Linked DNA regions of Homo sapiens. The protein of the gene in region 3 purifies or fractionates together with the protein of the main gene of each other region. This does not show direct contact. Each region holds a gene or a part of one and is shown on either strand. Other genes may lie near its edges.

Region 1 (3,658 bases), about 140 Mb from region 3:
ATACTGTGCTTTGGAGACCTCGTCATCCCCTTTCAGAGCCCCTGAAGGCTGTCTTGATTGTCCCAGCCCTGAACCCAGCTCAGCCCAATCTGCTGAAAGTTTACAGGACTGGACAGGCCAAGGGTGTGGTTCTAGGGACAGAAAGTACTATCTACATACTCTAGGAGTATGTAGAGATTGAGGGACCCACCCCTGTGCTGGGAAGGCTGATCAAGGTGATGGCCACCAGGAGGGTGGGAGGTTCCTGCTCAAGTACCAAAAGCCCAAGTCACACAAGGCAGTGGGGCATAGGGTGGGAAAAGGCCTGGATAGGAGGATGTGAACCACAGAGGGGGAGAGGTGGAAGCTGGAGAAGCAGGTTCTGGTTGGACCAGCAGCCTGGAATGCTGCTCAGCAGTTGAGCCTTTATGGGGAGGGGTTAGACACGGTCAAATTTGGGCTTTCAGGTGCTCAGTAGAGCTGCAGCTGGCAGGAAGACTCACATTTTGAGTGACTAGCTTGACTGAGGGGCAGAAGAGAGGAAGACAGTATTGGGACATTTTTGAAGGCAGCTAGGGGTCTCTGTGGGGCCACTGAGGCAAGGATCGGGGCCCGCATGGTCCTCATGGGCTGGCTTGCTAGCAATCATGAGTGGTCCTGGCCTAGAACTAAGGTCTGGCTTTTAGCATCCTCAAAGGTACACTGAAGACAAAGTAGTAGATAAGGCATCCCCTGTGGGGCCTCCTGTTTCCCCATCTGCAATGGGAGAGGTTCAGAAGAAATGGTCCAGGGCCCCTGGCCACCTCTGCTGTCTCAGGATCTGGGTATTTTGGGCTCCTTGCTGATTGTTCGGGAGGAGGCTGCCAGCAGGAGAGGGTGGAGAGGTCAATAAATGTAACTGACAGACAAAATGTCATGGTTGTGTGGGTCTGCACCATGGTGGCCCTGGCACCTCTCTGAGTTGTCTGGGCTTCAGATCTGCACTAAACTGTACCAGGGAGTTCCCCAATCACAGGGTGGACGGCTGCTCTGCCTAGGTTTTTTGGGGATCTGGCTCAGGTCTGCTGCAGTCAGGCCTCTTGCCCTGGGGCCATTCAGGCCTTGCCCGTGGTCTGGGCCCATAGGCTGCAAAAATTAGCCATCCATCCAAAGATAGTTCTGGAGGTCCTTGGGTATGAGGCCCATGGCCCCTGGGGAGCAGCCTGAGGCCTGCTGAGTGCTGACTGTGATGTGTCCCTTGCCTCTTCATCCTTTTCCACTCTAGCTCCCCCTGTCCACCTCTCTGACTCTAGGAAAGAAGGCTGCCTTTTGGACTCAGCTGGTTAGGAGCTCCATATGGGGCCAGCCTGGAGGAGCTCCTGTATAAGCCACAACCCACCCCTGGCCCCTGGGAGGGGCTTAGAGATTAGAGCAGATACGGGCTAGGCTAGGATTTATCAGCTGTGTTCCTGAGCGAAGAGAACTGCAGAGTTCAGATGAGGTGGCCAGGACATGGCGGGCGGCGGGGCGGGACAAAGGTATGGCTGAGTCTTCTACATCGACCCCTGTGGCCTGAGGCCTTGCGCGCAGGTCAGGGAGCTGTGGGTGCCTTAAGTGAAGGGTACTGCAGCAGCAGGATCAGAACCCTCACCTGGATAAGAGCTCTTCCAGGCGCCAACCTCATGCTTGTAAAACTAGTCTTGGCCCACAAGCCCCACCCAGGACAGGTGACTCCACCCCTCTGTAACAGGTCCCACCCTCTGTGCAGGCCAGGTCGCTTGCAGCCTCTCTCACTGGGGCCCAGGGTGCCCCGGCCCCCCCACATCCCTGCGGTCTGCCGGGAGGAAGCGGTCCCCCTCCCCCACCGTGACTCTGCGCTTCCTGCCCCAGCCCCGGGGCGGGAGGAGACATTTCCCGTTCACACCAAAGTTTTCCTGGCAGCGCCTAGACCTGGGCTTAGCCACTGCCCCTCTTGCCCATGGAACCAGCTCTGGGGCCTGGGGTCCAGGTAACCAGCAAGGGTGGGTGGAGGTTCCCGGGGCAAGGCAGGGCCGCACATGAGGATGTGCGCATGTCTGGGTCTGCCTGTCTAATGGTACACGTGTGTCCTGGGATCCACAGTTAAAGAAGGCTACTGAAGGTGGTGGCTGCTGGGCTGGGTGAAGATGGCAGATGAGGACCCAGCCCAAGGCTCTTGGTAGGGGGTGGCTGCTGTGTGGGACACCTTCTCCAGCCCTAGCACCAGTGTGGGCCACAGCCACACCCCACTTACGCCCCTCCCCTGGCTGTGTCAGACCTGCCTAGGACTGCAGGCATTAGGGAGGTGGGAGCAGAAACTGGGAGGCTGAGAGAAGCAGTGGGGTGCCTGGAAAAGTGGTCAGTATGTACCTAACTCTCTGATGCTGACCTTCCAATGTCCTGCCCTCCCTCCCCCGTCCCCCACTCCCCTTCTCCACACCCTCCACTCTGCCTTTAACCCCTTGTCCATGCCCTCTGTCCACCTCCATTCATTCTTCGCCTCTGTCTACATCCCCTTGTCCCTGCCCTGTTTACTGCATCCCTCCTGCCCCCCACCACTGTTCCCCTGTTCTGCCTACAGAAGGACCTGGGTTACCTGCAGCAGTGGCTGAAGGCCTTTGTAGGTGCCTTCAAGAAGAGCATCTCACTGTCCTCTCTGGAGCCACGAAGGTGAGGCTGGATCTGCACTGAGGGCAGGGACAGAGCAGGGAGATTGAGGGGTCCTCAGCACCCGTGTCTCCCCTTTCCTTGCAGGCCAGAGGAGGCAGGTGCAGAGGTCCCGCTGCTACCACTGGATGAGCTGCATGTGCTGGCCGAACAGCTGCACCAGGCTGACCTGGAGCAAGCCCTCCTGCTGCTCAAGCTCTTCATCATTCTCTGCAGGTGTCTCTGTTGTCCACTCTACAAGCAGGGGCCTAGAACTGTGGGCCAGAGGGAGAGGGGACAAGGAGGGGCATGGTGTATTATTGTGACCTCTCTCATCATTGACTCCCCCAGGAACCTGGAGAACATAGAGGCAGGCCGGGGCCAAGTGCTAGTGCCCCGAGTGCTGGCACTGTTGACCAAGTTGGTGGCGGAGGTGAAGTGGCCTCTACCTTGGGGGGCAGAGGGTGTATGCAGGGAGGCAGGCGGTAGCCATGGCGGGGCTAACCCTCTCTCCCCACACCTACAGCTGAAAGGATGCCCACCACCCCAGGGCCGAGGCACGCAGTTGGAGAATGTGGCCCTACATGCTCTGCTTCTCTGCGAGGGCCTCTTTGACCCTTACCAAACCTGGCGGCGCCAGCGCAGTGGGTGAGACCCAGCCCACAGGAAGGGAACCCAGAGGAGGGTGGGGAGAGGATGGCCGCGCTGGGCCCAAGGAGGGGTGACGGCCAGGAGTGGTGAGAGCCGGGCTGATGTACTTGGCCTCACTGCCCCCAGGGAAGTCATCAGCTCCAAGGAGAAGAGCAAATACAAGTTCCCTCCTGCTGCTTTGCCCCAGGAATTCAGCGCCTTCTTCCAAGGTCAGGCCCCGCCCCTGCCCCCACTTGGCTCCACCCCCAAACCTAGGCCCCTTCCTGTCGTTCCTTGATCCTGCCATACACAGGAACCACTTGGTGGTGGCTGCATGCAGGACTGGGAGAACCAAAGACCAAGCAAGAGTTTAGGGACAGAGACAAGAGAAGACATCTTGGGCTGG
Region 2 (2,413 bases), on a different chromosome or scaffold from region 3:
CCTCCTGCCAGATCAGTGGCGGCACAAGATTCTCATAGGAGCACGAACCCTATTGTGAACTGCACATGCAAGGGATCCAGGTTGCACGTTCCTTATGAGAATCTAATGCCTGATGATCTGAAGTGGAACAGTTTCACCCAAAACCATTCCCCACCCAAAACCTTTCCATCCATGGAAAAGTTGTCTTCCACAAAACCAGTCCCTGGAGCTAAAAACGTTGGGGAGTGCTGCCCTAGCAAAATGCCCCAGTCAGGTCCATTTCTACCCAGATGGTGAGGTTGGGCGGTCCAGAGGAGCGGGCCCTGATGAGTGTGTGGGCGTCCAGGTGCAGTGCTGGAAGTTTCCAGCCTGGCTCCATGATCATAGAGGGTGGGGCTGGGGGGTTTGTTAGGAATTGACAGAGGATACCTAAAGCCTCATTTCAGTAGCTAGAACAGCCTCATTCCAATAGCTCATAACTGGGGTCCACAAACTATAGAATTCAGGGGTCTGTGCACTTGGATTGGAATAGAATACAACTTTATTTTCAGTCATTTCTATTTCCTTGGTTATGAACAAAGGTAGCAAAGTGCAGTTGTATCAGCAGTGCCAATAGAAATTACAGAGTTTTTCATATCCCTTTACAGTTTGCCACAGGTATCTATCTTAAAATATTGTTTACACTCATCTCTCTTCAGTTTACCATTGTTTAATAGGCCTACCCTCGATCTTTTTATTCAATATGTTAATAAAGAAACCTATACACATAGTATCACGTTATACATTTTAAAAATATTTTGACAACTGTATATAAATATAACTAGCTTACTTTGTAATCCTACATATTTTATGTGTATGAAAATATTATTCTGAAATTAGCCAGGCATGGTGGTGCATGCCTATAGTCCCAGCTACTTGGGAGGCTGAGGTGGGAGGATCACCTGAACCCAGGGAGGTCGAGGCTACAGTGAGCTGTGATTGCACCACTGCACTCCAGCCTGGGTAATGGAGTGAGACCCCATCTCAAAAGAAAAGAAAAGAAAATATGATTTTGAGAAGCGATCCATGGCACAAAAAATGGCCAAGAGCCCCTGACTGAGAGGGGCCCTGTTGACACTCACATGCCACCCGCCCAGAGTGAGGGCAGCTGCCCAGCTGAGCAGGGACCCCGCAGGAGGAACCAGAGCAGGAGAATCCCTGGCACCACCCTTGCTCCAGTACACACCCATGGGTGCTCAATGAAGAAGTGAGGACAACTTGCTGCCATCTTCAGTTTGATGGAATGGCCTTAGGCCTCTGCTGCCGATTGTGAAATCATCGGCCTCTTACCTAAAAGCTCAGGAGGATTTAGGGGGAATGCAGATAGAGCACATGAGTTCACTGTGTAATGAAGGAAGGGGAGCCTCCCAGCATTAGATCTTAGGGAATTGTTCAAATTTAAGGAAGCAAAAGCCAAGAGTTGGGAGGAGAGGCAGGGAGAGATTCCTCCCTCCTCAGCTGTAGCTATAGCATTGCTTGGGGCCATGGAAAAACAGTTTTCCACACCCTAGCAGACAGCAAAAGCTATTTCAATGTGCCAAGTGAAAGTTGAGCCATGCCCTCATCCAAACTAGCCCCCAGCCTCACGCAGGCAGCTCCGGGCACCCGTGCACACTGGGTTCACCCTTACGGAGCTGTTCCTCCATCAGGCAGCTCTGGGCACTGGTGCACACTGGGCTTGCCCTTACGGGGGCTATTCCTCCATTTCTGTCTCCCCTTGTGCTGCCCCTCACTGGGGGCAGCACCACCCCAATCCACGCCAGGCAAGCCCTGCCCTGGGACACCGCTGCTGTCTGTTTTCATGGATGACTCAGGCCCCAGCAAAGATACTCTTTGTTCCTCAAAAGAGGGAATGGAGGGTACACTTGCTCTTAGGAAATGTCCCCCACCTTGCAGTCTGGCTTCCTGATCTCTCTCTGTTAAGATCTTTTAAGCCACCCCATCAGCCACAGAACGAAGCGCATCCACCAAGAATACCTGAGCCCACATCTCCCCCTCCCTCGCCCCGCCAGCTCCTCTGCCCCCCACAGCAGGAGAATGGACTTGTTTCCTATTACACAGGCCATGTGCCCACTGGGCAAGACCCAAACCCGTGGAACCCCCACTCCCTCTACTCCCCACCCCCTCCACCCCCCACCTTGCACTGCTGAGCACCTCCACCGCCTTTTGAAGAAACTTCACAGATTTGAGAAAACTCTGTGGGAGGGGCTGAGGTTTAATTCCGGAGTGGGGATGGCCTAGGAGGACACCAGAGGATGAAGCGGGGGGTGGGGTCTGGGAGTCTGAAATAATAGAGATTTTCAGGAGAGCAGCTCAAAGGTACAGCCCAGGGCCGCCCACTTCTGCTTCCTGCTGGGCTCTCTGCCACCTTCCATATGACATTGGCCTGGTCGGG
Region 3 (2,365 bases):
TTGGGAGGTCTCACGGTGTAGAGAGGAGCTTTGAGGCCACCCGCACAAAATTCACCCAGAGGGAAATCTCGTCGGAAGGACACTCACGGCAGTTCTGGATCACCTGTGTATGTCAACAGAAGGGATACCGTCTCCTTGAAGAGGAAACTCTGTCACTCCTCATGCCTGTCTAGCTCATACACCCATTTCTCTTTGCTTCACAGGTTTTAAACTGGTTTTTTGCATACTGCTATATAATTCTCTGTCTCTCTCTGTTTATCTCTCCCCTCCCTCCCCTCCCCTTCTTCTCCATCTCCATTCTTTTGAATTTCCTCATCCCTCCATCTCAATCCCGTATCTACGCACCCCCCCCCCCCCAGGCAAAGCAGTGCTCTGAGTATCACATCACACAAAAGGAACAAAAGCGAAACACACAAACCAGCCTCAACTTACACTTGGTTACTCAAAAGAACAAGAGTCAATGGTACTTGTCCTAGCGTTTTGGAAGAGGAAAACAGGAACCCACCAAACCAACCAATCAACCAAACAAAGAAAAAATTCCACAATGAAAGAATGTATTTTGTCTTTTTGCATTTTGGTGTATAAGCCATCAATATTCAGCAAAATGATTCCTTTCTTTAAAAAAAAAAAATGTGGAGGAAAGTAGAAATTTACCAAGGTTGTTGGCCCAGGGCGTTAAATTCACAGATTTTTTTAACGAGAAAAACACACAGAAGAAGCTACCTCAGGTGTTTTTACCTCAGCACCTTGCTCTTGTGTTTCCCTTAGAGATTTTGTAAAGCTGATAGTTGGAGCATTTTTTTATTTTTTTAATAAAAATGAGTTGGAAAAAAAATAAGATATCAACTGCCAGCCTGGAGAAGGTGACAGTCCAAGTGTGCAACAGCTGTTCTGAATTGTCTTCCGCTAGCCAAGAACCTATATGGCCTTCTTTTGGACAAACCTTGAAAATGTTTATTTAAAAAAAAAAAAGATGACAAAGAAAAACAGAGAGAGAGAATATTGGAGATGTCCTGAATTTTAATAGGGTACGCGCCATTAGGGCTTTTTGCGCTAAAGGATGAACATGTACTGGTTTATGTGGACAAGCCATTATACCACCAGACTGCAATGCCAGTTTCCTCTACTGCAAACAGTGTTCTGTGACAAAAAAAAAAAAAAAAAAAAGAAAAAAAAAGAAAAAACAGAAATATATCCAGCTAACAAGATCCTGGTGTCTTGGTGTTTTATTTTACTAGGCATTGCCTCATCCCAGGTGTCAGCTGAGTCCTAGCTCTGAGGGACCTGGGCAGACAGGCGGTAGGTGTGACCTGGATCCACACAGCTACTCTGAGAAAGCTGGTTTTGCCCAGGAAAGTCTTTGGGAGAAGCTAAACTAGATCGGTGGTCAAAGTGTAGTCCCCAGACCAGCAGCATCAGCTATCATCTGGGAACTTGTTAGAAATGTAGATTCTTGGGGTCCACCTTGAATCAGAAATCCTGGGGGTGAGGCCCAGCAACCTTTTCAGCAAGGCCTCTGGGTGATTGCTGTGCGCACTGAAGTTTCCGAACCTCGGAGCTAGAGGGATGGATCGACTGCATGTCAAGCTAGAGAAGACCAGTCTATCCTTAAGGAACTGCAAGCCTGGCCAGGCAAAGCTGCTTTTTAAGTGGAGGAAAGGGGGAGGATAATATGCCCGGCAGTTCCGGGAAGAGGCACTTCACGCCTCCACGGGAAGCTCACTAGTAAGTGCAGGCATACCTCAGGAACGTCGCAGGTTCAGTTCCAGACCACCACAGTAAAGCGAACTTTGCAATAAAATGAGTCATACACGTTTTAGTGTCTCACTGCATGTGAGTTATGTTTACACTGTATTAAGTGTACAATAGCATTATGTCTAAAACAGTGGGTTTTTTTTGTTTTTTTTTTTTTGACACAGAGTCTCGCTCTGTCGCCCAGGCTGGAGTGCAGTGGCACGATCTCAGCTCACTGCAACCTCTGCCTCGTGTATTCAAGCAATTCTCCTGCCTCAGTCTCCCGAGTAGTTGGGACTACAGGCATGTGCCACCCCACATGGCCATTTTTTGTATTTTTACTAGAGACGGGGCTTCACTGTGTTAGCCAGGACGGTCTCAATCTCCTGACCCCGTGATCTGCTTGCCTCAGCCTCCCAAAGGGCTGGGATTACAGGCGTGAGCCACTGTGCCCGGCCCAACAGTGTACATATCTTAATTAAAAATAATTTATTGCTAAAGAATGCTAACGATCATCCGAGCCTTAGGCAAGTTGTACTCTTGGCTAGTGAAGAGTTTTGCCTCAATGTTGATGGCTGCTGACTGATGAGGGTGGTGGTTGCTGAAGGTATGGGTGGCTGTGACACTTCCT

The links.
Region 1: the proteins of IGF2BP2 (region 3) and NBEAL2 purify together in Homo sapiens (tandem affinity purification; one large-scale study listed by IntAct). This does not show direct contact.
Region 2: the proteins of IGF2BP2 (region 3) and MAPK13 purify together in Homo sapiens (co-immunoprecipitation; one large-scale study listed by IntAct). This does not show direct contact.

What each region holds. Positions count from the first base shown.
Region 1 is NC_000003.12:46,986,112-46,989,769, forward strand, and holds part of NBEAL2 (neurobeachin-like protein 2), read left to right. Parts: intron 1-1,878; exon of another isoform or gene 1,879-1,936; coding exon of another isoform or gene 1,937-1,966; intron 1,967-2,250; exon of another isoform or gene 2,251-2,334; intron 2,335-2,557; coding exon 2,558-2,646; intron 2,647-2,730; coding exon 2,731-2,859; intron 2,860-2,973; coding exon 2,974-3,055; intron 3,056-3,148; coding exon 3,149-3,270; intron 3,271-3,399; coding exon 3,400-3,482; intron 3,483-3,557; exon of another isoform or gene 3,558-3,658. UniProt on the Homo sapiens protein: Probably involved in thrombopoiesis. Plays a role in the development or secretion of alpha-granules, that contain several growth factors important for platelet biogenesis.
Region 2 is NC_000006.12:36,142,611-36,145,023, reverse strand, and holds the end of MAPK13 (mitogen-activated protein kinase 13), read right to left. Parts: 3' UTR 503-2,413; downstream 1-502. UniProt on the Homo sapiens protein: Serine/threonine kinase which acts as an essential component of the MAP kinase signal transduction pathway.
Region 3 is NC_000003.12:185,642,582-185,644,946, reverse strand, and holds the end of IGF2BP2 (insulin-like growth factor 2 mRNA-binding protein 2), read left to right. Parts: 3' UTR 1-1,817; downstream 1,818-2,365.